2 separate regions of the Homo sapiens genome follow, and region 2 is linked to region 1. The links come from fine-mapping of genetic effects on gene expression. A gene starts in region 1. The other region holds a variant in brackets. All regions are shown on one strand. Distances are from middle to middle.

What was found.
Region 2: its variant is fine-mapped to the expression of LINC01220 in whole blood (INTERVAL, PIP above 0.99).

Annotation. Positions count from the first base shown.
Region 1 is chr14:75,287,561-75,302,356 of GRCh38, reverse strand. It overlaps LINC01220 (long intergenic non-protein coding RNA 1220), which reads right to left and starts at 7,953. Exons shown (of 3, transcript NR_038421.1): 1 at 7,816-7,953; 2 at 7,620-7,680; 3 at 5,947-6,237. It also overlaps the pseudogene DPPA5P4. RefSeq lists silencers at 7,716-8,175, 13,028-13,212 and an enhancer at 8,246-8,385.
Region 2 is chr14:74,944,462-74,959,257 of GRCh38, reverse strand. PGF (placental growth factor) reads left to right here and starts at 3,661. Exons shown (of 7, transcript NM_002632.6): 1 at 3,661-4,090; 2 at 5,312-5,354; 3 at 9,705-9,901; 4 at 10,675-10,751; 5 at 12,850-12,879; 6 at 12,983-13,045. The coding sequence starts at 4,016. LOC107984690 (a long non-coding RNA gene) reads right to left here. Exons shown (of 3, transcript XR_001750826.3): 2 at 10,259-14,018; 3 at 9,031-9,953. RefSeq lists silencers at 3,515-3,614, 3,795-3,864, 12,750-12,799. The variant G/A (reference allele first, on the strand shown) is at 7,274.

The DNA of each region.
Region 1 (14,796 bases):
GTTTTGTTTTCAGAGTTGAGGTGTCACTTTGTCATCCAGGCTGGAGTAAAGTGGTGCCATCATGACTCATTGCAGCCTCCACCTCCAAGCCTCAAGCGATCCTCCCACCTCAGCCTCCCAGCTAGCTGGGACCACAGGTATGCACCACCACGCCTGGATAATTTTGTTTATCTTTTGTAGAGATGAGGTCTCACTGTGTTGCCCAGGCTGGTCTTGAACTCCTGAGCTCAAATGACCCTCCTGTCTCGGCCTCCAAAGTGCTGGGATTACAGGCATGAGCCACCAGGCCTGACCAGGAAGTGAGCTTTAAGCTAGAGATCTGAAGGATGTGTGGGAGTTAGCCAGGAAAGAGTAGAGTTCCTGTGCGGGGGGTGGCGGGGGAGGGGACAGAATGTACAAAGGTCACGCAACAGAGAGGAACATGCTTACTCAAGGAACTGAGAGAAGACAGGCATGGAGTGATGCAAGATGAGGCTGAGACAGAGGAGGGCAGGAAGGGGCAGCTCGATGGGGCCAGGGACCAGAGGACACAGGCTCACCCAGACCTGATTGAGGTAGCCCCCCAGTTCCCAAAGTGACTACTGCATGGTTCTGCCTCCCGGGGGCCCTGCACCAAATGGCCCATGTGGACATCTCACCTCTGTCCTTCCAGTTCCCATTCTCTTCCTATCCTCCCCTGCTCTCCCCGCTACTAATCCTTTCTTTACCTCGTCACCATCAGCTCCTCTATTGCTTATCCTCTTCTCGCTTGCCCTCCCCAGCATCTTCCTCATTCACCCTTTTTTTTTTTTTTTAAGGCAAGGTTTCACTCTGTTGCCCCCAGGTTGGAGTACAGTGGCATGATTGTGGCTCACTGCAGCCTCAAACTCCCAGGCTTAGTTGATCCTCCCAAGTAGCTGGGACTACAGGTGCATGCCACCATGCTGAGCTAATTTTTTTTGTATTTTCTGTAAAGATGGGGTTTCACCATGTTGCCTAGGCTGGTCTTGAACTGCTAAACTCAAGCGATCCACCAGCCTCGGTCTCCCAAAGTACTAGAATTACCAGCATGAGCCACTGCACCCAGCCTCATTTACCATCTCCACCTGCTCCCAACTTTTCCAGGAAATCGAACGTCAGTCTCCAAGCCTATCTTCCCCTGAAAAGAAGATAATCTTTAAGTCAGACACAACCAGCATTCATTGAGAGCTCACCATGTGCTGGGCCCGGCATCACTTTCCACATTTTTTTCATTTAACCCTCACAGCAATCTTATCCAATAGCTACTATCATTCCAGTTTTACACTTGAGGAAATCGAAGTGTAGAGACAGTAAGTAGTTTTCTCAAGATTACGCAGCTAGAAACTGGTTGAACCAATACTACCCTCCTGTGTGATAACAGGGACTGCACATTGTCCTGTTTGACAGCGTACTAACTGCACGACTACATTTCGAAAGCCTTAAAAATGTGCACACCCTTTGGCCCATTTCTGAAAAAGTCAACTTAGATGTGTACAGAGGTCCCTGCAGCATTTCTACAATAGCACAGAATTTGGAAACAACCCAAAGGTTCAACAATATAGGGTTGGTTAAATTGTGGGTCATTTAGAACTAGAAACCTATATAACCTTTTTTTTTTTTTTTTTTTTTTTGAGACAGAGTCTCGCACTGTCGCCCAGGCTGGAGTGCAATGACACGATCTTGGCTCACTGCAACCTCCGCCTCCCAGGTTCAAGCAATTCTCCTGCCTCAGCCTCCCAAGTAGCTAGGCTTACAGGCGCGTGCCACCACGCCGGGCTAATTTTTTGTATTTTTAGTAGAGACAGGGTTTCACGGTTGGCCAGGCTGGTCGCGAACTCCTGACCTCATGATCCACCCACCTGGGCCTCCCAAAGTGCTGGGATTATAGGCATGACCCACCACGCCCAGTCTCATGACTATTAAAGTGATCATGTAAAAAAAATTTGATGTCCATGAACTACCATGTAGAAGAAGCAAAATGACAATACTTGTAATTACAAGTATTACAGCATGGTCCTGTTTTTGCAAAAACTACAGTATGTGAATTGAAGTAGAAAACTAACATGCAGAGAGGATCCTTGCGGCCAGGAGTTTGACACCAGCCTGGCCAACATAGTGAGACCCCCCACACACACACCATCTCTATAAAAAATAAAAAATTAGCCCAGAGTGGTGGCATGTGCTTCTAGTCTCAGCTACTCAGGAGGCTGAAGTAGGAGGGTCACTTGAGCCCAGGAGTTGAAGGCTGCAGTGAGCTAGGACCGTGCCACTGCACTACTCCAGCCTGGGTGACAGAGCAATATTCTGTCCAAAAAATAAATAAAAAATGAAACTAGTGTGTGTATTGGAAAGGTAGAATTAAAAATGTTGACAGTGGTTATTCCTGTGATGGGATTACAGTCAATTTTTATTTTCTTTATTTTTTGATGATCTGAATTTTCAAAGGTTTCTACCAGGAGCATGTATTTCTTTTGGGAAAAGTTTTTTTTAAAAAGTGAGGAGGTGTTGGAAACTTCCCATTTATTATGTTGTCATCTATTTTAAAAACAAACATACTACTTTGCTGAGAACGTTTTGAAAATATTTTTTTCCTATTACAAAAGCAATATGTGCTTGCCAAAAAAGGCAATCAGAAAGTACAGACAAGCAAAAAGAAGAAAATAAAAACACATTCCCTCCTACCCAGGAACAGCCAATATTAGCACCTTCATGACTCTTCATAAGCTATGTTGTTTTTTTTTTTTCAAGAGATGGTGTCTCACTATGTTGACCAGGTTGGTCTTGAATTCCTGGCCTCAAGTGATCCTCCCACCTCAGCCTCCCACAGTGCTGGGATGAGCCACCACGCCTGCCATGTTTTTTTTAAAGATAGCTCAACCTTCAATTTCTGCTCCAGGAGCTATTAAGGGCCCACCCTGTTGCCATTACTGGAAATATGAGTTTAGAAGGAGGTTTGCAGAGTCCTCTGTGATCCCCAGTTCCTAAGATGGTTTTGCCAGGTCTCAGGCTGTGTTTGAGGCCCCCAAATCACAGCTAGTGGTAAGCGTGGTAGACACCCTGGCCCTGGCCTGTTTCGGAGCACAAAACTCCTCATGTGTCATGGGGGCCCGGAGCTGTCAAGTACGAGGACCTTAAGAGTAATTCCTCACACGTTTAGGATTGCGACACCCTATCATTGTTTGATGTTGCAACCCTCCTTCCCCTTTACTGAAGGAATACATGCAGCATTTGCATATTTCGTTGGGTACTTTTCCACACGAGTTGAAGGGAATTAAGATTAATTTGGCTGCAAGACTACCAAAACCCTCCTTCCCCCACTCCTCGGATAATTGCAGGCAATCAGTCAGGGGTGTCTTCAGTTGGAGTGAAGGATGGCAGCTTTGAGGAGCCGTGAAGGCAGGTTCTGCCATGAGGAAGGCCACCCCAGGCCTGGGAGTACACCTACCAAGGCCAGATATCCCTGGGCCATTCTGACACTCCCCCGCACCCCACGCACACACAACAAGAGGTTTCCAAGGCCCACCCACACCCTCTCTACTAAAATCTCCCCTCCTGGGAAGGAGAGCCGGAGAGGCCTCCAGCTCCTGGCATCCAGCCCCAGTGGGTCCACGCCCTCAGCACAGCCCTGGAGCAGAAAATGTTCTTAGAGCTGATGTGCAAGTCACACCGTTTCTGCTTCCTCAAATGGGGTGATATTTACTCCTGGCGCAGACCCAGGCCCACCCTCCCACCAAGCTCCACAAGTTGAGCTGGTCTCATTGCTATCTGATATGTTCAGTCTTTCTGGAAACTTCAATGACCTTGGAAACTCTATTTTCCTTTACATGTGGCTGCTCTTGTCCACAATAATAACTATAGCTTCTGTTTATTACACTCCTTCTGTGCCAGGCACATTACAAACATGCAATACCCACAACAGTCTTTTGAAGTAGACACAATTATTCCCATTTCACAGATAAGAACACTGAGGTTCCGAGAAGTTATCTGTGCAAAGTCACACAACTACCGACAAAGATAGGAGTCAACCCAGACCTGCCTGACCCCAAAGCTTATGCACTGCCCTGAAAGGTCACTGCTCGAGGGAACCAAGAGAACATATAATCAATCCCCATTCCAATGACAAGACAGCTAAGCTGGAAAATTCATTTACAAACAGTTACATGGTACTTACGAGGTGCAAGGTGTTGCTTTAGCACTTTACAAATACCAGCTAATTCACCCTCATTGTATCACTATGAGATAGGTACTTTTTTTTTTTTTTTTTTTTTTGGAGACGGAGTCTTGCTCAGTCACCCAGGCTGGACTGCAGTGGTGCGATCTTGGCTCACTGCAACCTCTGCCTCCTGAGTTCAAGCGATTTTTCCTGCCTCAGTCTCCAGAGTAGCTGGGACTACAGGCGCGTGCCACCACACCTTGCTAATTTTTGTATTTATAGTAGAGATGGGTTTTCACCATGTTGTCCAGGCTCGTCTCAAGCTCCTGACCGCTGGTGATCCGCCCACCTTGGCCCCCCAAAGTGCTGGGATTACAGGCAGGAGCCACCATGCCCGGCCTTTTTTTACAGAGGAGAAAACTGAGGCACAGAGAGAAGAGTAAACTTGCCCAGGGACATACAGCAAGTGGTAGAGTCTGGATATGAAGCTAACTCTAGGGCCCGTGCTGCGTCTTCTATCCCAGAAGCAGAGACCCACCTCTCCTAAGTCATTGTCCTTTGACCTGTCTACAGCACCGCCACCTTCCTCATCTTTCTGAGAGTCCACTTCAAATTTCAGACTTCCTCATCCCACTCTGGGTGATGTTAGTGTTCTCTTGTGAAATTGCTTTGTGAAATGACTTACTGTGCAAGGCCATATTTGATTAGATCACTATCCAGAGTCCCTAAAGAACTAAGAGTTCTGCAAGGTTTATTGAAGCAAAACCTCAGTTGTTTCTGTGGAAGCTAATCAATTAATTAATAAACAGGGGCTTATTGAGAGCAGTTTGTGTCCCCAGCCCTGTGCTGGGCACCCTGGGGTCTGTGAACACAAAAGATGCACAGACTTGGACCCCAATAAAGAAATACAGTATATAAGTGCACACTGTGTGCTGAGCCTGTGTACAGCCATATTTCAAAAGACATATAGGATGGCTGGGCGCGGTGGCTCATGCCTGTAATCCCAGCACTTTGGGAGGCCAAGGCGGGTGGATCACTTGAGGTTAGGAGTTCGAGACCAGCCTGACAAACATGATGAAACCCCGTCTCTACTAAAAATACAAAAAATCAGCCAGGCATGGTGGCGGGTGGCTGTAATCCCAGCTACTCGGGAGGCTGAGGCAGAACTGCTTGAACCCCAGAGGCGGAGGTTGCAGTGAGCGGAGATTGCGACACTGCACTCCAGCCTGGGTGACACAGTGAGACTCCAGCTCAAAAATAAAAAATAAAAAAGACGCATAGGAGAGGAAAGTCAGAAGTCAGGAAAAGTTTTTAGGCAAGGGGTGGAATTTGAAATAGGCTTTTTTTTTTTTTTTTTTGAGATGGAGTCTCACTCTGTCACCCAGGCTGGAGTGCAGTGGCCTGATATCAGCTCACTGTAACCTCCGTCTCTCGGGTTCAAGTGATTCTCCTGCCTCAGCCTCCCGAGTAGCTGGGATTACAGGCGTGTGCTACCATGTCCAGCTAATTTTTGTATTTTTAGTAGAGACAGGGTTTCACCATTTTGGCCAGGCTGGTCTCAAACTCTTGACCTCAAGTGATCCGTCTGTCTCGGCCTCCCAAAGTGCTGGGATTACAGGCGTGAGCCACCGCGCCTGGCCTGAATTAGGCTTTGAAAGAAGGGACAGGGTTCCGATAGCAGGAAGAGAAAGAGCAGATTTCGCAGCAGAAGCAACAGGCATGTTTTCTGCATCCAAATCGGCCAGATCCTCAGAAAGAAACGAAAGAGAGAAAAGGCTAGAATGGTTCGTGTGTTTTGGTTTGGCTTGGGTTTTTTTTCTGTCAAGTTTTGCTATTTCCACCAAAGTGAATACAGAAAAACTCCCTTGCTGGCAGCACCGCGACGAGGCTTCTGGATTGGAGAAGGGCGCGCTGCCTCACATGTGCACTAGGGGGCAGAGCTGCCGCGGGGCTGCTGTAACTCCAAGAACAACCAGAGGGCAAGGGGAAGGATCCCAGCCCCTTCCTCAAATCAGGCGGCTGCAGGACGGGAGGGCAGTTGGAAAGCAGTCGTCTTCTTAGTCCGAGTTGCCTTCATATTCAGCCTAGAAGTTAGGGAAGAAACAGCGTGTAAGAGGAAGTTGGGTGAGACTGAAAGGGGAAAGAGAAAGAGAGAAGCATTGAAGAGGCACTCTTCCCCACCCCCAGCAAGGAACCCTCCATGTGCCATGAAAAGACTTCCAAACAGCAGAAAAGGGTTAGGGCTACTCCTGCCTCCTGCTGTAATCTTGGCTGAGAAAAGTTTAATGCAAGGCTTGGGTAACTATGAAAAGTGACCAACTGCTAGACTAAGACTGGTTTCAGAACAGCCGACTCCTGTTCCCTGGACAGGGGTGACCATTCCAGCTGCTCTAAGGAGGAATGCTTGAGGCTTTAGGAAGTACACAATTCTTGGCCATCCCCCCCAGGCCCTGGTGTCATGGTGTGGGCTGCGTGTGGCAGCAGACGTGACAATGGCGTTCTTTAAGAGCCCTGAAGTCAATATTTAGCCTAAATGTACAACCCACCAGCTGAGCCAGGCAACAGGGTTCTGAAGCACAGGAAATTAGAAGCACCTAGGCGATGTGGAACACTATTTGAAGCTAGATATCCTGACTTTTATCAGTTTCTAACTAGCTGTGCAAGTTTGGATGGTCGAACCAACTTCTCTGAGCTTTAATTTCCCTGTTGGCGAAATAGGTTAAATTAGATTAAAAGTCTCCGATGTGACTTCCAGCTCTGAAACTCTGGAAAACACACACTCCTTCAGCCAGAGGAACTGGGGAATCTAGGGGGCAGGGATGGGGGTGGGAGGATGGTGACAGGCGTCTTGAAGGATTAACCCCACGCTTCTCCTCGCAATTGCAATCGGCTCCCCAGCAGCGGCCACTGCGGCACTGCCTGCCCCACCCCCGCCCTCTGGGCCCGGCGGTACACACCCACGGCTCCCTCAGAGACTTCTGGAATCTCGCTGGATTTCTCCCAGGAATGCTTATTGCCCTTTAGATCTGCAAATCGCTTTACATCAGCAACCCTGCCGCGCGATTATTAATCATCTCAATATTCTCCCCCATCCCCTACCCTCCCCCTCGCCCGGCCTGGAAGAGGAATTGCAGGGGTCCGGATTTATGAAGGTGATTCGTATTATTCATTCAATAATCAGTTAACTAAAGTTCATTAAGCGCCTAATAGGAGCAAGGTGCAGAGACACACAAATCCAATCACCACAGGGGGCAGAACTGTAGGGGGTCGATGCTCAAAGAACTTCACTGATATTCCAGTTATGTCCTGGGGAGGGGGTGGTTAGAGGGTGATGGAAAAGCTCCCCTCACAAGCCTGATGACAGTGCTGCAACCATTATGGACCACCCCCACGGTTCGTTTTATCATGCCAGGAAAAGGAAAATGGCCTTCCCAAGGTCACTTATCCCCCGAGGGGCAACACTGACCCCAGAACCGCCGTCTTCAAAGCTTTCCACTGTGCCATGAAGGAAAATTTTGAGTTGAAGCCTATAAAATACAGCGTTGGGCGAGAGATGGCATGATTTCCGGGCACAGAGTGAGAAAATCGTGATCCCAGATCACCCACCCACAACAAACGAGACCGCCCCAAATCTTGACTGCAGCTACAACCAGCAGACGCACAGGAATGCTGGAAACAGCTCATTCATCCATCGCGGCGCCCTCTCTCTGGGCCCCCAGCGCCCCTGCCCTTGCCTCCGCCTGGGTGGGTCCCGGGACAGGAGGCGGGGGTCTCGTGGCTCGGAGCCTTCGCCCAGCATTCCAGGGGCGGGGCAGGGACCGGGGGCGGGGCGCGGCGGGAGTCCCGCCCACAGCCTACCCCGGGCCGGCGGCGCAGTGGCTGAGCCAAATATGGGCAGAGCGGAAGCGGCGGGCCGGCGTCACGGCGCCGGGTGGGGGCCGCGCTGCGGGGCGGTGACGGGAGTCGCTGACGGCGCCTACGTGTCACCGTGGAAACCAAACAGTAAACAGAGGACTCGCGAGCTCCTGGCACCGTCTGGCCCTGCGACCTGCCCTGGAGCAAAGGGCCGGAAGCTGGGAAGGGCCAGGAGAAACCTTGGCCTGGCCGACGAGGACAGGGGCGCGGCAAGGGTGTAGAGAGGGCGGTGGAGGGGACGCTGAGAGAGCACTCCCAAACGTCCCTCCCTGAGGTCCCTGGAAGCCGGCTCTCCCTCTGCCCACGGGCCAGCAGGGGCTGGTCAGGAGCGGAAGGAGGCCCTCCTGTCCCTTCTTTTTCTTTTCCTTTGTTTTTTTTTTTTTTTTTTTTTTTTTTTTTGAGATGGAGTCACGCTCTATCGCCCAGGCTGGAGTGCACTGGCGCGATCTCTGCTCACTGCAACCTCTGCCTCCCGGTTCAAGCGATTCTCCCGCCCCAGGCTCCCAAGTAGCTGGAACTACAGGCGCGCGCCACCGTACCCGGCTAATTTTTTACATTTTTAGTAGAGACAGGATTTCACCACGTTGGCCAGGTTGGTCTCCAACTCCTGACCTCAGGTGATCCGCCCGCCTCGGCCTCCCAAAGTGCTGGGATTACCGCGCCCGGCCTCTCCTGTCCCTTCTGAGGGCCTCCGTGCCTGCAAGGTTGTTGCGGATACTGATTTTGCTTTGTTTTTCCTTTCTAATGGCTAAGAGTTCAGGCATTGAAGCCACACTGCCTGGACTCTAATTCCAGCGCTGCCACTCCAGTTGGATGATCTTGAGCAGACCTCTGCGCCCCAGACTATATTATTATCTACAAAAATAAGGATAATAGCAGGACCTACCTTTAAGAGTAGATGAGGACTTTTAAAATGAGTGTGTGTGTGTGTGTGTGTGTGTGTGTGTGTGTGTGTGTTTGGAACAGTGTCAAGCATGTTGTGAGCCCCAAGTTAGTGTTAAGTGTTTATTTTTATTCCCAGGCAGCACAAGAGAAACTTACGTAGTATTAGTAGTGCATCTCCTAAATCTACTACTGACGTAATGTTTTTTTTCTCGAGTCTTCTTTAGATTTAAAATAAAAGGGGGCCGGGCGCTGTGGCCCACGCCTGTAATCCCAGCACTTTGGGAGGCCAAGGCAGGAGGATCACTTGAACCTAGGAGTTCTAGACCAGCCTGGGCAACATAAGGAGACCCCGACTCTACAAAAATAAAAAAAAATAGCTGGGCATGGTGGTGCACACCTGTGATCCCAGCTACTTGGGAGGCTGAGGTGGGAAGATCTTGGGCCAGGGCAGTCAAGGCTGCAGTGAGCCTTGATTGCAGTCACTGCACTCCAGCCTGAGTGACAGGGAGACCCTCTCTCAAAAATAAATAAGCAAAAGGAATTATCTATTTTAAAGATAATATTCAAATCTAGTAAAAATATTTAGTTATTAACTAAAATGTGCATTTGTCAAATAAAAACATGGCAAAACACTGTATCACACTGCTTCGCAATTTTAAATTTTAAACACGAAAACTCCAAATGGTTACATGGAACAGAAGCAACTCAAATTCAGTCTTCACAGTCATTGTGTTATCTCTGTTTTTTAAGTAATTTTTTAAAATGAAGCGTACATATTACATTATTCAAACTCAATAGTAATCCCAGCAACTGTTTAGGACTTAAAACAACCAAAGATTTTTTCAGGAAGAAGTACTTTGTCACTGACAACATTAGAATTGCCAGCTCATAGTGTTTATTTAAAAGGCAGACTGCCCAAAGACCTGAAAGGCCCAGAGGTGTTCTAGGTCCCGACGCGGCTGCTGGAAGCCACCTTTGGTGAGTGTGCCCAGTGCTGGCCTGGGTGCCCTACCTGGGAGCTCTCATCCCCTTCCCCCAGCAGGCCCGTATGGATAATCCCTTACATCGAGCAGATGAGCAAGGCCATGCTCCAGCTGAAGGCTCTGGAGTCTTCAGACCTCACCGAGGTCGTGGTTTACAGCTCCTATTGGTACAAGCTCCAAACCAAGTGGATGCTCCAGTCCATGGCTGAGTGGCACTGCCAGCACCAGGAGCAAGGGATGCTCAAACTTGCAGAAGCCATGAATGCCCTCAAACTAGACCCTTGGATGAAGCGAACCAGCTTCCGGCCAATGTGATGGAGGCCAGGATGTAGAGATTAGGTTGTGGCCAGAGCCGGAGTGGTTCCAGCTTGGTTTAAACTCTGCTCCAGCCTGATGAATTAAGGAAAAACCATCTCTTTGGGGATCTCTGCCCTTGCTCTGAGTCCTGTTGTGAATATCTTTTTTGAAGGTTGCCAATTAAAGAAGAAAGTTTTGGGGTTTTCTCATTTTTCTTTATTAAGAATAAAGTTTTAAATAAGGGAAAATTTTTAAAAGGCAGACCAACTTTTTTTGGTTTTATTATTCGTTTGAAATTCTAAGCAGATAATGTGATCCCTTGTGGATAACAAATCCTAGAGTGACCCACAGTGATTCCTGCTTCCTGATGTCCATGCCTTTGTGTAATTCCCTCCATCTGAGTGCAGGTGGAACCTGAGACTTGCCTCTTAGCAATAGAAAATGCAAAGGTGATGGGATGTCACTCCCGTAATTTTATGTCTGTGTATGGCCCCATCTTGCTGGCATGCACTGGAGAGGTTCTTGTCGCAGGCTTGATGAAGTGAGCAGCTGTGTTGAAGAAGTTTACAAGGCAGCCTCTAGAACCGAAGGGTAGCCTCAGCCAACAGCCAGCAAAATGCCAGAGTTCTTAGTTATACAGCCACAAGGAAATACAGTCTGTGAACAACCTGAGTGAGCTTGGAGGTGGACTCTTCCCCACTCAAACATCCAGCTGAAAACACAGCTCAGCTGACACCTTGATTGCAGCCTCGCGAGACCTTGAACACAACACTGTTCTGTTCAGAAGATGGATGGAGTTTGCTAGATAAGCAACTGGCTATACCTGGACTCCTGATGTTCAGAAACTGTGAGATAATAAATGTGTGTTGCTTTAAGCTGCTAAGTTTGTGGTAAATTGTTATACAGAAATAGAACCAAATACATTCTCATTGCCTATCCCTAGAACAGACTGCTCCCACCTCCCCATGCTTGGTACACTTCTGTGGCTCTGTACACACTGCTCAGGCCTCCCATCTTAAAAAGGTTCCGTGAGAGGATTACAAGGAGTGTCAACTGCAGAGCATGCCCCAGTGTTGCTACTAGAACATCAAGCATCTAAGAATGATGTGGTGCGGGCACTTTAGGGCATTTTCGTAGCAGTCTCCTGATGTCATCAGAGTTTTGAAGATGGAAAGGGAGCTTAGAGATTTTTGAATCCCACCCCTAATCTGGCATAGGAAATAGTCTCAGAGGGGTTGAAATCTCACCCCAGGTCACATAAGCACATCTTTAAGAGCAGATGTTCACATTCTAGCAATGCAGTTAAGCACTTTGGGTTTTAGAGTCACAAAGAGCTGGATTCAAATCTTAGATCTGCTACTTACCAGTTGTGTGACCTTGGTCAGCTTATTTAACCTTTCCTAAATTGTTTTCCTTATCTGTAAAATGACACTAATCATATCTGCCTCATAGGATTGTTGTGAGGACTAAATGAGAGCATTTATTAAACAAAATAATTATTGTATGCCCATTACGTGCCAGTTGCTAGAGGTACAATGATTAGCAAACCAAAGTCATTGATTTAGCATGGCCTATAAAGTGCATAGCACAACCTGGCACAGAGCAAGCACATGTGAAATACTGGGCATTATCAATATTTTCTCTTAAGGCTCCAGGTTCTATCCCAACCATTTGCCTCCAGACAAGCTCTATAAACTCATATCATAGAACCTCTGCTGTGGTTCCAACTGCCCACATCTCCCCATAGATACTCCCCAGGCATTGCAAACTCAACATGTCCAACATAGAATTTACCTTTTTAACCCCCAAACCTGTTCCTCTTCCTATAGTCACAAAGCCATTGGTGGAAACACAAGCCTCCCGTGTTTCAAGCCTGGTAAACCTGACGGTGAGCTTGGGTTCCTCCCTCTCCCTCACCTCCACCACCTACTCAATCACCAGGTCCTGACCCCCTAATTACCTCTTGTTCCCTCTCCATTCCCACCACCACTGCCTTGGTTCAGCCTACACATAACTGAGCTAAGTAAGCACCAGGCTTTTCATGATCTGGTCACAGTGATCTCTTCTTGGCTGATCTTCAGCCCCATCTATTTGATGATGCAATATTGATATAAGTGAAATTAAATGCACTTGCGTGATGTTCTGTAATTTACATCTCCTCCTCATCATCTCCCCCTCACTGCCCCCTCACACACTTTGTAGTTGAGCAAAACCAAATTCAGTGTTTTATGAGTCTGTGCCCTTGCAGTGCTAATCCTCAGCCCAGAAGCTCTCTACCCTGCCACTTGCTCATCTAGCAAGCTCCATACACCTTCGAAGCCTAGCTGAAAGGTCACCTTCCTCAGAGACTCCCCCAGAGAGAGTTTGTCACTACCTCTTCCATGTAACTCCTGAACCTGGTGTTAATTTCCATTGTTACAGTGTATTATAAGGTTTGTGTTTACCTGTCTTTCTCCCTTACTTGAGCTCTTTGAGGACAGGATTGTCTCTTCCTCACACTGAATTCAATACCTGATACATAGCAGACACCCAGAAACTTTTTATTAAATGAAATGAAGCCCATACATGTTCCCCTGACCCCCATCTCCCTAAACTATAAAGATAATAAAAGCAGCTAACATTTCTTCTTTTTTTTATTTTTTTTTTTCTGAGATGGAGTTTCGCTCTTGTTGCCCAGGCTGGAGTGCAATGGCGCCATCTCAGCTCACTGCAACCTCTGCCTCCCAGGCGCAAGCAACTCTCCTGCCTCAGCCTCCCAAGTAGCTGGGATTACAGGTCCCACCACCACGCCCAGCTAATTTTTGTATTTTTAGTAGAGATGGAGTTTCAACATGTTGGCCAGGCCGGTCTTGAACTCCTGACCTCAGGTGATCCACCCACCTCGGCGTCCCAAAGTGCTGGGATTACCGGCGTGAGCCACTGTGCCCAGCCAAAAACAACTAACCCTTCTATCATACTTCTGTGTGCCCAGATGCTGTGATATTCAGTCTATACATACCAACTTATTTAATGTCCACAACAACCCCAAGAAGTGGATACAATTATTATCCCCATCTTACAGGAGGGAAAACTAAGGAGCAGAGAGGTTAAATAACTTACCCAAAGTCTAGGAGTGAGGATTCAGGGCTAAGTCTATGCTTTGGACCACTCTGCTAAATTGGATCCAATTCTTGCCTGGGTGCGGTGGCTCACGCCTGTAATCCCAGCACTTTGGGAGCCCAAGGCAGACGGATCATTTGAGGTCAGGAGTTCGAGACCAGCCTGGGAAACATGGTGAAACCCCATCTCTACTAAAATTACAAAAAGTCACCAGGCATGGTGGCATGCGCCTGTAATACCAGCTACTCAGGAGGCTGAGGCAGGAGAACCGCTTGAATCCAGGAGGCAGAGGTTGCAATGAGCCGAGATTGTGCCACTGCACTCCAGCCTGGATGACAGAATGAGATACTGTCTCAATACATAAATACATACATACATACATACATTGGATCCAATTCCCCAAATTTAGATCAATATATTATATTGTTTTGATAAATTTAGCTGTGATGATAGTCACATCACTGACAAAAAGCCTAAAAACAAATCATTGCTTCCATAGATTTGACCAAAAATTGTTCCCCAAAGTAAGCATGGCGGCAACTGGAGACTGGGTCACTTACATTTAGCACGAAGGTATTTCGTTTTGCTCAGTCTAGACCCTTTAATAGGGGCCCCTTTGTATGGGTCTGCTTCTAACATAACCAACAATTAAACCCGTGCGGGTTCCCAGCCCTCCCAGTCACCTGACTGTACCAAACCCAATCACCTTGAGCTGAAAGGGAAAAGGGCTTATTAAGAAGAGCTGGCTGGGCTCGGTGGCTCATGCCTGTAATCCCAGCACTTTGGGAGGCTGAGACCGGCGGATCACCTGAGGTCAGCAGTTGGAGACCAACCTGGGCAACATGGTGAAACCCCATCTCTACAACAATACAAAAATTAGCCAGGCATGATAGCAGTTGCCTGGAATCCCAGCTACTCTGGTGGCTGAGACGGGAGTGAGGCAGGACAATCGCTTGAACTCAGGAGGCAGAGGTTGCAGTGAGCCAGCCTGGGTGACAGAGTGAGACTCCGTCTCAGAAAAAAAAAAATGGAGAGCTGATGGCCATAAGGCCAGGCAGGCTCCAGAGCCCTTACTGCTCTGTGTCCTCTTAAGCAACTGAAGAATGCTTGGGCAAAGGAAAGGCAACTTAGTTTAGTCCAAAAATAGATGTGTGGAACCACGAAAATAAATTGTGTTGCAACGGAACTGGTTTACGTTTCTGTTGCTTTCTCCCGCATGCAAAGGAAATGGAAATCTATCCAACCATCCCCCTTCAGAGACTTTGCACTGATTCCTCAGGATTCAATGTACCCTATTTCTACCTGCTTCTCCTCAGGTCTGGGCATATTCTTGGCAAATGATAATTATGATGATGATGTTGATGTGATAATAATGATAGTAGCTAACCCTTATTCTTCTATTTTAATGCAGACTAAATTATAGGTTTTACCATTTAGCACACTGATTGCTAGGAACCATTGAAC
Region 2 (14,796 bases), 340 kb after region 1:
AAGGTGGTTAGAGCACCAAGCACACTGTTTGGCATATAATAGATGTTCAATAAATATTACTTCTCTCCCTGAAACAACAGCAAGAGATTGTGGTGATAAACAGTTAAGTGTTGAGTTGTGGGCACTGACTGCCACCCCCTAAGCACCTGGGTCTACTTCAAGGGCCTCAGTGACAGTTGAGGATTGAGAGCCTGCACTGTGATGGTGAGAATTAGTGTTTGTGTGCACCTATGCAAATCGCTCCATTTTCTTTCTCCACTGCCACAGGCAGAAGCATAAGATTCTTTATTTTCTATCTCATGTCCATGCTACAGGACTCTGCTCTGTAACTGTAGTTTGTTTTTTGTTTGTTTGTTTTGGTTTGTTTTTTTGAGATGGAGTTCTACTCTGTCGTCCAGACTGGAGTGCAGTGGCACGATCTCGGCTCACTGAAACCTCTGCCTCCTGAGTTCAAGTGATTCTCCTGCCTCAGCCTCCCGAGTAGCTAGGATTACAGGTGCCTCCCACCACGCCCAGTTAATTTTTGTATTTTAAGTAGAGACGGGGTTTTACCATGTTTGCCAGGCGGGTCTCGAACTCCTAATCTCAGGTGATCTGTCCTTCTTGGCCTCCCAAAGTGTTGGGATTACAGGCGTGAGCCACTGCACCTGGTCTAACTGTAGTATTTTTATTTCTCTAATACAAGTCAAAAATTAAATTAGAAATCGTGATCAATTGCTACCATTCTTTGCACCAAAGGTGCTTTCTCAGTCCTCGCACAACCCTATGAGGTAAGTACTGTTATCATTCCCACTCCTACAGATGGAGGAAGCTGGGGCTCTGAAAGCAAAGGAAGCTGCTTGAGGCGATGTGGCTGGTCAATAGTGGGGCCAGTGTACAAAGGAGCACAGCCTGGGCAAGATGGCAAGACCCTGTCTTTACCCCCAAAAAAAAAAAGTTTTTAAATTAACTGGGCATGGTAGCACACACCTGTAGACCCAGTTATTCTGGAGGCTGAGGCGGGAGGATCCCTTGAGCCCAGGAATTGGAGGCTGCAGTGAGCTATAGCCAGTGCTACACCAGTGCACTGTAGCCTGGGAGAGAGAGCAAGACCTCGTTTCTAAAAATTAAAATTAAAATTACAAAAATTTAAAAAAAAAACAAGGGAGCAGAATTACTAGCACAGCTGCTCTGGACTGGATGTGAGCAAGAACAAACTTTGATTCAATCCATGGAAATGTTAGAGTCTCCTTGGTCTCTGCCGCTGAGCCTACCCTAGGCTAATTCATCTCACAGCCCAGGAAGCTGGGTTTAGAAGGGTATGGTCCCCAATTTAGTGATGAAGGACTGAGGTGCACTTGTGGGAACCACAGACTTCGCCCAAGGTGTTGAGTTCACTCAGGAAAGAGAACTTCGGCATCCCCAGCCATCGGTATCCCCCTACTCCATGAATGTAAACTCAGAGAGACCCTCCATATCATATCCCTAGCACCTAGAGCAGTTCCTGGAGCATAGCAGGGCTCAGGCAATACATGCCAAATGAAAAAACAAATTAATGAATACAGGCTGGGCGCGGTGGCTCACACCTGTAATCCCAGCACTTTGGGAGACTGAGGTGGGTGGATCACTTGAGACCAGGAGTTCTCGACCAGTCTGGCCAACATGACAAAAACCTGTCTCTACTAAAAATACAAAAATTAGCCAGGCATGGTGGTGTACACCTGCAATCCCAGCTACTTGGGAGGCTGAGGCACAAGAATCGCTTGAACCCATGAGGCAGATGTTGCAGTGAGCCGAGATTGCGCCACTGTCTACCAGCCTAGGCGACAGAGCAAGACTCTGTCTCAGAAAAAAAAAAAAAAAATACAAACTCATACACAATAGACACATCCCATGCATAAGTGCTAGAAACACTCAGTTATAGACAAGCATATACAATGAAGATACTTAAGCACACGCGCACACACTTGTGCACAATACACACCTGTGCCCACATACACAAATCCATACCCAAACTAAAGACACACACAAACACGTGTATGTATACAAAGATGTTATGGGCAACATATACAATACATATATGCACAAACACACACCTACTCACCCTCACACACATGCACAGTGACCCTCCACAATGATTCTGGGCCCAGGAAGCAGTTTGTCTACCCCACGAACCCCAGCTTGTTTGAAGCTCGTCAGGATGTTCCTTGCAGACCCCGCTTAGCCAGCTGGTGACTGGCCCCCGCCTCCTGAACCTCCAGGCTTAGGGCCGGCCAGGCAGGCAGGCTGCATCTCTGGCAGCCCCTCGTGGGTGGGCAGGCAGGCAGGCAGTGGACGCAGAGGTCACTGGGGTGAGAGCTGGGGCTGCCCTGGCCTCCCTGCTCTTGGCTGGAATGTGAGCTGTAGGGGCCACTTCCCAGGCCTCGCTCCTCCCCCACAGCCACCCACCAGCCCCAGGCCCAGCCAACTCGTGACTCCCAGTCCTGCCAGGTTCCTGCAGCCTGGGAGCTGGACACAGAAGGCAGTGAGAGGAGTGGTGGTAAAGAAAGATCCAGAACCAAGGGAGGGCACACACAAACGCAGAGAGAGAGGCACAGTCTTCACCCACAGAGACAGACACACACACGCAGAGACAGGCAGGCGTGCAGACTCACAGTCCCACCGAAAGATACACATTCAGACACTTCCAAACACACCCAGATACACAGCGGACACGAACAGATCACACAAGCATACAGAGATACAGAGAGACCTGACCCCCACACAGAGGCGTATTTGGAGGTACAGTAGTCACACGTACTCAGACCACACAGAGGCTCAGATGCACCGCTCATGGATATTCACAGACCCGCAAATGCCCATGCACACGCGCAGATGCACACAGACCCCCGCGCAGCGTACAGTTCCTCCTCGGCCAGGGACCAGGAGGAGATGCCTGAGTGAGACCACTCTCTACCACAGGGGGCTGCCCCGCAGGGAGGGCCTGGGAAGACTGCTTCCCAAGGAGGCAACAGGCCTGATCCTCCAGCCAGGTGCCCTGAGAGGTTTCCTGTGGGAGGCCCACTGTGTCCGTGCCTGGCTAGGAGGGTGGTAGGTCGGGTTAGAGTTCTGGAGTCACGTAGGCTTGGGTTTTGTCTCTGCCAGTTCCTCGGACACACAGATGCGCGCACACACACAACACACACACACTTTCCAAGAATGCCTATGTCCATTCGACATATGCAGGCAGGGGTGCTCTCGGAGCCTCGGTTTCTTCATCTATATAACCTGGCTAGGAATCCCTTGGCCCCCTAGGGGTGTGGGCATGGCTGCCTTCCCAGGCATCCCGGACGGCCCTTCCTGCAGAGGCGGTTAGATCATGAGCCTTGACGGCTGACGCTGGACTCCTGGATGCCCCCATCCCAGGTGACCGCCCTGAGAGCCGAAGCAGGGCTGTGGGCCCTGTGGGCGGGCGCGGCGCGGCCCGGGGAGCTGCGGGCTGGGCTCGGCGAGGCGTCTGGACCTGCCGAGAGCCCCTCGCACGCACTGCGGGCTCCGGCGCTGCGGGCTGGCCGGGCGCTGCGGGCTGACCGGGCGCTCCGGGAACTCGGCTCGGGAACCTCGTCTGCGGTGGGCGGGGCCGGCCCGGAGCCCCGCCCCGGCTCAGTCCCTGAAACCCAGGCGCGGACCGGCTGCAGTCTCAGAAGGGAGCTGCTGTCTGCGGAGGAAACTGCATCGACGGACGGCCGCCCAGCTACGGGAGGACCTGGAGTGGCACTGGGCGCCCGACGGACCATCCCCGGGACCCGCCTGCCCCTCGGCGCCCCGCCCCGCCGGGCCGCTCCCCGTCGGGTTCCCCAGCCACAGCCTTACCTACGGGCTCCTGACTCCGCAAGGCTTCCAGAAGATGCTCGAACCACCGGCCGGGGCCTCGGGGCAGCAGTGAGGGAGGCGTCCAGCCCCCCACTCAGCTCTTCTCCTCCTGTGCCAGGGGCTCCCCGGGGGATGAGCATGGTGGTTTTCCCTCGGAGCCCCCTGGCTCGGGACGTCTGAGAAGATGCCGGTCATGAGGCTGTTCCCTTGCTTCCTGCAGCTCCTGGCCGGGCTGGCGCTGCCTGCTGTGCCCCCCCAGGTAAGAGCTACCCCCACCTAGCCTGGCTCCCCAGACCTCCCCATCCCAGCACTGGAAGCATGGGACTCTGAAATCACAGACCCACTCCAGGGAGCAGCAACTCCAAGGATGTCCACACACTTCCTAAAGGCCAGGCTGGACTTCTTTCGTTTGGGAAGAGACCTCAGGCTGGCTGTCCCCCAGGTCCTGGGGGCTGTCTTGGTGGGGGCAGGGAAGCCACAGGGAGGGAGGGAGGGAGGGAGGTTTCCTGTCTGGCCCCTGGAGCCCTGGTGGCTTTGCTAAAAGCATCTGTCCACTAATCCCAGGCGGGTCCCTGGCCTTGTGGTCAGGGTCGAGGCCCCATGGCCAACCAGGCGTCCCCAGGACCTCTGACCTGGCCTGGTGGGGGTGGCGGAGGAGCCAGCTGAAGAAGCTGTTGGTGGGGAGGCTGGCCCTGCCCCCACCAGGGCTCAGGACTGAGCCGTGGGCTCCTGGGTGGGCTGGGGACGAGACAAGGGGTCTCGCTGTGCCTTTTCTCCTGGGTGGGTGGCCGGAGGTCCTGAGTGCAGGGCCTGGGGAAGTGAGCAGGGCCCTTTTCCCAGGAGCCGGGTGAGTCTGGCTGGGAGCCAGCTTGGGCAGTGAAATCCTGACAAAGCCAATGAACTGCCTTCCCACTGCGTTGTCCCACTGCCCTGGGAGTCCCCAGCCCCAGCCCAAGAGTAGGAGTGGGCTGGGCAGTCCCTGAGGAGTCCGAGCAGCCCAGCCACCCGCCTGCCTGCTGCAGGGCTGGCCAGAGGTGTAACGTTACCGGCTGCACCAGCTCATGGCGCCACCCGCTCCAGCCCCTCAGCTCCCACCAGCTGATCACCTCCCCCTGGGCTCTGGCACCCAGCCAAGGCGGGCTGTGCAGGGCCCAGCAGGGTTGGCCTGGGGGCTGGGTAGAAGGCAGACCCGCAGGATTGGAAGATCTTTGGGATGCAGCAGGCCAAGGGTCTCCAAAAGCTTCTAGCCTCCCATCCTTTTCCAAATGAGGAAAACTGAGGCCAGAGAGGGGTGGGACCTAACCTACCCAGGGTCCAGTGAGTTTTTAGTGGTACTCAGGCTGCTCTGAGACAGGGCAGAGCATGTGCAGCAAGTGGGAAGGAACCCAGAGGGGCCCCTACCTTCTTGCCATCACACTTGGCCCAAGAGTGCAGAGCTCCAAGGTACCCCCAGCTCACCTCTGCACTTTTCTGTCCATAGCAGTGGGCCTTGTCTGCTGGGAACGGCTCGTCAGAGGTGGAAGGTAAGCTGGCCAGGCTGGGGGTACGCATGCTCCCCAAGCCCCTCTCTTCCTTTCTCCCAAGCCCAGGTGTGGCATGAAGCGTGGGTGCAGGTTGATAAAAGCTGGGGAGAGCCTACAAGCTAGACATGCTGGGTGATGACTTTGGCAGGGCCTAAGAGATCCCCTCATGGTGACCCAGAGACTAGAGAGGTGTGGGCTGGAGTCACCAGCACACGGAGAGTGGGGCTGGGGCCAGTATAGCCAGGGTTCATCCAGCTGGCTCAGAGCCCTTCCCCAGCATGATTTAAGGGTATGGATGGGGTCTTGGAGGACAGGGTGGGGAGTGAGTGCCAGGGGCCAGAATGGGGGTCTGGGAGCTGAATGCAGTGGGCAGTCAAGAGGATCAGGAATGGGTGAGGGGCCCTCCCCAGCAGCCCAGCCCTGGTGGAACTGCCGGGATCTGACCATGCGTTTCCATTGATTATAAACAGACAGAACATAGTCGCGCCCTCCCTGGCCCCTCCACTCCCCGCCCTGGTTGCATCAAGAGGGAGTCTTCAAAGGGCAACGAGACGTTTGCCAAAGAGACATATGTACAGAAGGCAGGAGGCCCATGCCAGGCCCCCTACCTCGCTCCTCCCTCCCTGCCTCTCCAAGACGTGCAAAGTGGCCACACACCACCGCTGAGGTTTCCCCTGCGCCATGGGAGAGTGGGCATGTAGGGACATGCACACGCACACGCGTGATAGCCATCTGCGTGCTGGGAACACCCTCTGCTGGGCTGCCTGCCTGGCAGCCCGCCTCTCCCGGGCCTGGCCATACTCTGACACCTAAGGCTTAGGCCCCTAGACCCCTGAGCAGGTAGAGGAGGTAGCTGCCCTTGACCTCATGGATGCCTCCCTTGCTGTGCCTCTGGAACCAGCACAACATTATGCTCCTTGGGATTTGGGGAAGGACCCATCCCCTACCTCCACACTATGCCCTTTTTGGTGCTTTTAGTGTAGGTCAGGCCACAGCTACCAAAGATGCCTTAGCCTCAGTTTTCTCATCTGTAAAATGGGAGCCTTGGCTACATGATGTCTATGGTTTCTTCTTTTTCCGAGATTGAAAAAGGGACTTGTCCTCTGACTCCAGGGAGGAGAAATGGGTGTACATATCACCCAGGATTTGAGGTGGGGAGGCCTGGAAGTGTAGATTCATTAGGTCAGCTCTCCTGTCACACTTATCAATCAGGGAGTCTGCAATCTGACCGGGAGAAGTACAACGAGCTTTGCACCCCAGCTCTCAAAATCTGAAAATGGCATCCCCACCTGTTAACACCACAGCCAGAGACAGCATGGCCAGCCATGGGCATTGATTTTTACTATTACTATTCACGGTAACAATGTTAGGCATTTTCTGTCATTCTGTTTTGACCACAGGCTGTGAAGTAGGAAGGGGTTGTACTCCATTTTTACAGATGCAGGCAGGCCCTGAGGCTCAGAGAGGCCCTGGGGGTCGCCCCAAGCCTCAGACACTCCTCATGGATCTGGCAGAACCAAGTGCTCCCAATAGCTCCGTGGCTGAGCGGGCATGAGCAGGGTGTCCCTTGTGGCAGGCTGTCTGTGTGCCCTGCCAGTGACCATGGAGAGGACACTTGTGGGCTTGGGCTGGTGGCCAGTGGCTCTGCCCAGCCCTGTGGCCCGTCTCCAGTGCCCTCCACAGAAACTTGCTCTCAGGATTAAGCATTTCTCTCCTGGGGTCTCCCCCATCCCAGGTGGTAGGTAGGCAGGTGGGAGGCTCACTCACAGGGCTGGCGAGAGAGCTGAGGGCACACTTGCAGCCTCAGGAGCAGCCCTGGGGACCACCCAGCCCTGGCAGTGCCTGAGGGGGCCCTGAGGGGGCCACAGCTTCCCGTTGCTCTCACCTCCACCCCCTCCCGGAGCAGGTCTGGGGCCAGC[G/A]GAAGTGCTCTCGGGGACAGCTGAGCAGAGCTCTTTCCTGAGGGACACAGCCCACATCTGGGAGCGGTCACTGTACTCCCTCAGCCCGGCCCCTCACCCAGCCCCTTTTGTTTCTCCCACACACCCATAGCGGGGCCTTCAGGGATGAATTGCCCTTTCCTGGTGGCTGCCAGGTAAACCAGGCTCCAGCCCACCTCCTTCTCAGCCCTCCCCCAACACAGTTCGGCCACAGGGCTGGGAAAGTGGCAGATTCCAGGGTTTCAGGGACCCGGAACCTGCATGGTGGGATGTGGGGTGAGGAAAGGAAATCCCTTCTTCTGCTGCCGAGGCCCAGCCAGTTCTGCCAAAGGTGGCCATGGCCCCGCAGCCCAGCTGGGTGGGTGTCTGTTTGCAGGATGGAGGGGGCTGGGGTGCCCCTTCTCTGCTGCTGTCCCCTCGCTGACGGCTGGTCCCAGGGCAGGAACCTGAGTCTTCTGTGGTGCTTTGGCAGCTCATTATTCCTCTGCTGTTATTTATGTTTTCCAAGGTGGAGATTAAACGTTCAGAGTCACGTAGTGCTCATGAAGATTTTAAACTAAACACACAGCTCAAGGAGCTGGTGATAGGGAGGTGCTCTCTGACCCAGGATTGCAAAGGCAGGCTTCCCTGCACTTTGGGCGCCTTTGGGGAGAGAGGCCTTGTTTCCCACTGGGTTCCGGGGCAGTATCCAGTGGCGCGGAGTGGTAGAGTCAGAGGAGGCCTATGGATTCCCCCCACCACCAGCCCCTAGGCCCTAGTGCCCTCTAAGCAGAGCACGGCAGAATGGAGCAGAATGGAGCAGCAAACAAGCAGATAACACTGTTTATTGCCTCTATGACTGCCTAGCCAGCTCCACATGGACACACCGCCTCTGGGTATTTTCCACCAGTTTGCAGCCTTTCCCGAGGGCCTCTGCTAGGACTGAAGTTTATTTTTCTTCCGAGATTACCAGGAGGCTCATGTCCTCATAGGCTCAGTGGAATGGACTTTGGCCCCTTCTGCCTCCTAGGCAGAGGCATGGAAGAAATGAGGGGTTGCTGGGAGAGGCCATTGTTCCATGGCAGAGGCTGCAGGACCCCCAGCTCCCCATTCTTCCCCACTAGCTGAGGATGACCATCAGATGCAGAGCAGGATGACCCAGGCCTGGGGGTGTTTCTCTGTCCATGGTCTCTGGGCTGGGCTGGGTTGCAGGCACTGATTCACAGGCGGTTGGTCAGAGAGGGAAAGACCTTAGCAACCATTTATTCCCAACCTTCTTTTTTCCCACCTGAGGAAACTGATCTATCCAGAAAGGTTAAGTGATCTCCCCAAGGTCACATAGCCAGTGTAGGGCCAGGACTGGAAGCCAGGTGTCTGACTCTGGCCACTCTCCCTGTGAGCCTCTATTTGGGGCCTGGTCCTAGGCCTTCCCCCGAAAGAGCAGCATCTTTTGAGGGATTCCAGATCAGCCCCCAAAAGATCCCATTCACGATCGCCAGGACATCGTGAGGTCAGGGATGACCCGGATGATCCTCAGTGAAATGTCATCTAATCAACCAGGAGTGACTTAGCCTGTGTTTACGGGTACGTCCATCTCTGCCCTCATGGAGCCTCGAGTTGGTTGTAAAGGAGATAAGAGCAAGCAGTGCCGGAGATAAGGCAACCCCTTGAGGCCAGAGGCCAAGCAGTGCTCAAGGGAGGCTCATCTGTGTGCACTGGAATTGCTGGGGAAGTCTTCAAAGAGGAGGTGGGGAGGCAGGTCGTGGAAAATGGCGGGTGGACTTTATTTGGATAGAAATGAGAGGAGGGGGAAGAAGAGCAGCTGTACGGGCTGCAGAGTGCACAAGCCAGAGCTGGGAGTGAATGTGGTGCTGCCGTGGCTCAGTGTGAGCGCTGGTTGGACTCAGTGGAGAGGAGGGTCGGGCCACATTGCTGGATGTGGTCTTGGTTGCCAGGCAGAGGAGCTGGCACAGAGTGGGGCAGGAAATGAGGGAGCCGTGGAAGGTGTTTGAGCAGAGGAATAAGGGAAGGCCAACCCTCCCTGCATGACTCCAGGAATGACTGTTTTCTGCAAGTTCTCCAAGTTGGAGGAAGCACCGGGTCAGGCTTGAGAAAGATCCAGAGGGCCTGGGTAGCTGCCGGGGCTACAATCCTCAAAGCTCCAGGGAGCCAAGGCAGACGTGGGTGCCTGAGTTGAGGACAGAGCAAAGCTTGGGACCCTGAGAGATTCTGTTCCATGGGGATTTCCATCCAGCAGATGAGCTAAGGGGCCCGCAGGCATTTCGGAGGGATCACATTAGGAGTTCAGAGTTGAGGGAGCTCGGATGGGGCTGGGGGCTGAACCTGGAAGGCCAGCAGGGCCTTGGGAGCCAGGTTTAGGGCTTCAAGGGGCAGGTCTCTGCTGGCCTGACCCAGCCCCCTTGCTTCCTCGCAGTGGTACCCTTCCAGGAAGTGTGGGGCCGCAGCTACTGCCGGGCGCTGGAGAGGCTGGTGGACGTCGTGTCCGAGTACCCCAGCGAGGTGGAGCACATGTTCAGCCCATCCTGTGTCTCCCTGCTGCGCTGCACCGGCTGCTGCGGCGATGAGAATCTGCACTGTGTGCCGGTGGAGACGGCCAATGTCACCATGCAGGTAGGTCCATACCCTGCCCAGGGGGCCACCGAATCTGCCCACTAGAAGGTACCTGGAGAGGGAAGAAGATAGGCCCAGGTCCCAGGGCTGGAGCCTGACTCCCAGGCCAGTGCTCCTACCACCCCAGCCCAGGGCCTCTTCTTCCTAAGCCCTCCGATGGCTCTGAGCCCACTCATCTCCACCCCCACCAGCATTCTCAGCCTCACGCTGAGTCCTATCCCAAGACTCAGGGTGTCTAGTTAAAGCTGGAAAGAAATCTGCTTGTATAAAGTCCCTGTTGACACCAGGAGCATTTGGTCCCTTTTCAAGCAAGTGCAGCTTACATGTCACACACGCAGTGGTTTACTGAGCACTTACTGAGTAATGCCAAGCACTGTCCTAGGCGTGCCACAAGTGGTGTGTCATTCAATCCTTCAAGGCTGGTGTCATTCCCATTTCACGGATGGGGAACTCAAGGTTCAGAGATGTTATTTCACTTGTTCAGCAGGTAAAAGAGTCAAGATCTGAACACGGGTCTCTCTGACTCCAGAACATGAGCCCCCTTCCTGTGCTATTGCTGTGCTAGTGCTCCCGGGCAGGGAGGGACAGGGGCCTCCCTCAGATCCCCATGCAGCTGAGAGAGCTGTTTGCCCCACGTTCAGAGTGGAGTGAGGGCCTGTAGTCCACAGGCTAGCAGGAAACAGAGTCGGGTTCTCCTTACAAGGAGAGAGAGAAGAGTGCCGGAAACTCGTGGGCCACTCCCCAATCCAGGCATCAACTCTTTCTTCCTTCAGCTCCTAAAGATCCGTTCTGGGGACCGGCCCTCCTACGTGGAGCTGACGTTCTCTCAGCACGTTCGCTGCGAATGCCGGTAGGTCTCCGGGGTCGGGTGGGTAGCAAGGAAAGGCCCCCGTCCTCTTGGCAGCCTCAGCAAAGATGGGTCCCAGGGCAGAGGCAAAGGCTGCCCATCCCCGCTGCGGGCTGAACTTTTTTCCAGACTGAGGGAGACCAAGAGGGCAGGACCAGGGGTGGCTACCATTCATTTTGTCCCCCCACCAGCCAGTTTTGCCAAGGGAGCTGGTCCCAGCAGCTGGGGTACAGCTGTTGAGATACTGCAAGGGAAGAGAGAGGGTGGGTCCCTCCCAGCCTCGCAGGGGTTCGGTGCGTGTCGTTCCCCTTCTCTGGGATGGGAGGCAGCTGCCACGGGCCTCTGAAAGAGGTGCCTGGAGGCAAAGACATTGCAAGTCTGAACTTCGTTCTGGGGCAAGCTGTGTGCCCACAGGAGCGGGCAAACGGGGCTGAGAAGCAGCAAGAAGGACAAGCTCGGGTAGGAGAAAAGGGGCAGAAGAAGAGTGACACTGTGGCTTCCTTGATGTTGCAGCACCCCTCTACGGCCCCTCCCAATCCACAGAGCCTCTGACCAGCACCAGTCTTGCTGCCTGTGCTGGGGGCACTTGGAACATTGGTTAGCAGGAGCAACAGGCCTGGCACTGCCAGCTAGGTTCAGGGAAGAGAGAAATGGGCTGAGCTGCTGCTCCTGGTACTACTGGGCCATGGATGAAGGCACCAGACTAGAAGTCCAGAGCCCTAGCCAGGGGCGGCAGGAGGGAAGACTACCACTTATTGTGTACCTATTCTGTGCCTAGCCCCGCAGGAGGCACTTGAATGTTTCTCATTTAGTCACATACATTTATTGAGCACCTACCACATGCCAGGCATTGTCCTGATGGGATGCAGTGGTGAGCAAGGTTCCTGCTCTCATAACAACCCTGGGAGGTAGGCCCTATTGTCATCCCCATTTTACAGATGAGAAAATCAAGGCTCAATACAGTTTCATGATTTATCACAGCTAGTGAGTGTGGGAGGAGGGATTCTGGGCCCTGACCTAACTCGTAAGCCTTCGTTTTTCAGGCTACCTTTCATGGCCATGACCACTTTTCTAATAGCCCCCAGGCTTAGCCTTGCCTCCTGGGCAGGGCTATGGCTGCCCCTTTTGTTGGAGTGTTGGAGACCCTGCCTCAACTTGTTTCCACCCATCCCTCCAAGCCAGAGCTTAGCCATATAACAAGAGCTCGGTAATGAACCCTCCTGGGTGCAATGCTGGGTGGTGACCCAGAGTCACCTTCTCCATCCCCTTTGCCCTGACAGCCACTCTTTTGGGGCAGGCAGATGAAGAGACTGAGGTTCCAAGAGTGTCTGTCACTTGCCCAATATGGAGAGGTACAACCAGACAGTCCCAAGAGGCCCTGGTACCTTGCCCTGGCTCCCAAGGGAGGAACCAGCTGAGGGTAGCATGTCCTGGCCCCAAAGCTGACTGCTACCATGCTGTCCCATGTCTCTACCCACTGTTCCCAGTGAAGACTGAGGCCCTATCCCCTGCCAGGGGCCAGGCAACAGGGACACCTTTCTTCTTGCTTCTGGGCCAACAGCCACAGCCCTGGGAGGCAGAGCCCAGACATGCCTGGTGACTTCAGGGCTGATGCTCCCTCCTTCCTCCCACCCCGTCGCTCACTCCCCATGTTGTTCCGGATGGAGTGGGGCTGTGCCCTGACAGGCAGCCAGTCCGCTGTCTGGCCATCATCTCCTGTCCCTGAGGAAATTCCCAGAATGCACCCTGGAAGGAACGGAAAAAAGCAGCAAAGAAAGTGAGAAAGAAAAAGCAACAGAGAACAGACAGAAACAACCAAATTTGATGCCAAGAGGCTGAGAAGTGCAGAAGCGGGTGGCAGGGGTCCCCAGGAGGTTGATTTGTCCCTCTCGTGGTGGGGTCACCAGAGCCTGGAGTGGGAGTGAAGCCTTGAGGCTCTGGCCACCTCTCCCTTGCCAACTCCATGCTACCCCCTAGTGGCCTCAGTGTCAGCTGCAGGACCAGGACTGGGGATGTCGGAGGGGACCTGTCCGGGCGGCAGGGAGCCCCACTTATTGCTTTCCTAACGTTCCTCTGCCCCTCTCTCTGTCTGTTTCCCTAGGCCTCTGCGGGAGAAGATGAAGCCGGAAAGGTAAGTGGTTTGGCTGGGGCTCGGGGCTATTCTCGGGCCTGCCAGCCTCTGTCCTAGCATGGGGTTCCCCAGCCACCTTGTCCTGACGCTTGGCTTATTGCAGGAGGAGACCCAAGGGCAGGGGGAAGAGGAGGAGAGAGAAGCAGAGACCCACAGACTGCCACCTGTGAGTGTGCGGGGTCCCAGGGATGGCGAGGAGGCTGGGCCCGAGGGGAGCCCCGCCTTGCCGCCAGGGTTAGGTTGGGGAGGGGGAGAGGCAGGACTGAGGCCAGTCTTGGGGGCAGAACAGGGAGCTGCACCTCCTCAAGACTCTAGGGCCCAGGAAGCATCAGTGGACCTTGGTTTTTGTCCCGGCTTAGCCCTAGGTTTCCATTGACCTTCAACAAATCATTTCACCTTTGTCAGCCTAGCTTTTCTCTGTGTAGAATGAGGGGCAGGAGGTCCAGCAAACATTCAGTCACTCTACAAACATTTACTGAGCACTTACTGTGTGTCAGGTACATCTGTGAGCAAACAAACAGGATTCCTGCACATTAGTGTTTACCTTTTAGTGATTAAAAGTCTGTCATCAGCTGAGACGTTATCTGGGGCCACTTCCTAGTAGCCCCGGGGAACATGTGCCCCTCGCCACTGTCTCCCAGGAGTATTTTTGCCTGTGGGTCCCCTTGCTGCTTCTAACCCACTTCGTACCTTGTGGGCAGCAGAATGGAGCCCCAGGCCTGAGTGTGGCTGGGAGAGAAGGATGAGAGGAGGGAAAACCCAAATCTGTGAGAGTAAATAGAAAAAATAAAATATTTCACGTGCACAGTCAATCAGTCACTGAAGAGAGGTGGCTCTCCTTCAGGGGCTAAGCCTCCCCCACGCACGTGACTCCAGGAAGTCATTTCGTGCTATGGAGTGGAGTTGACCCAAGCCCTGACCCCATGAGCCCCACTCCATGAAGACAGGGATCCTGGGGACTGCGCCCCCTAGGGGTTTATGCTCTCATCTCTTTTCTGGGCCCGCGCGGCAATTTGGGAAACAAGCTGGCAGGGAAGTCCATCCAGGCCCGAGTTACCCGCCGGCAGCCGGAGGCAGAAAGTGTCCCGTGGCTCCTGTTCCCAAGGCAGCAGTCTTCAGACATTTCACTCGGGAATCTCCTGAAAGAATTTCAAAAGTGGCCGGGCGCAGTGGCTAACACCTGTAATCCCAGCACTTTGGGAGGCCGAAGTGGGTAGATCACTTGAGGTCAGAAGTTCGAGGCCAGCCTGACCAACACGGTGAAACCACATCTCTACTAAAAATACAAAATTAGCTGGGCGTGTTGGTGCATGCCTGTAATCTCAGCTACTTGGGAGGCTGAGGCAGGAGAATCGCTTGAACCCGGGAGGCGGAGGTTGCAGTGAGCCGAGATCACGCCACTGCACTCCAGCCTGGGTGACAGAGCAAGACTCCGTCTCAAAAAAAAAAAAAAAAAGAATTCCAAAAGCCCATGTGCTCCCTTGCCCATTCTTAAGTTGACATTGAACATTTTCATCAGAATTATAAGTCAAGCCAGGCTCAGTACCTCATGCCTGTAATTCTAGCACTTTGGGAGGCCGAGGCGAGTGGATCGCTTGAGGCCAGGAGTTCAAGCCTAGCCGGGGCAACATGGTGAAACCTCGTCTCTACAAAAAAAATACAAAAACTAGCTGGACGTGGTGCCATGTGCCTATAGTCCCAACTACTCAGGAGGCTGAGGTGGAATGATCACCTGAGCCTGGGAGGTCAAGGCTGCAGTGAGCCGAGATAGATCCACTGCACCTCAGCCTGGGTGACAGAGTAAGAACCTGTCTCAAAAAAAAAAAAGTATAAGTCATTACAAAGGATATAATTTCTGGCATATTATTAATATTTTAATACAAAGCTATTGTAGAACACTCTCCAGGTGTATCCTAT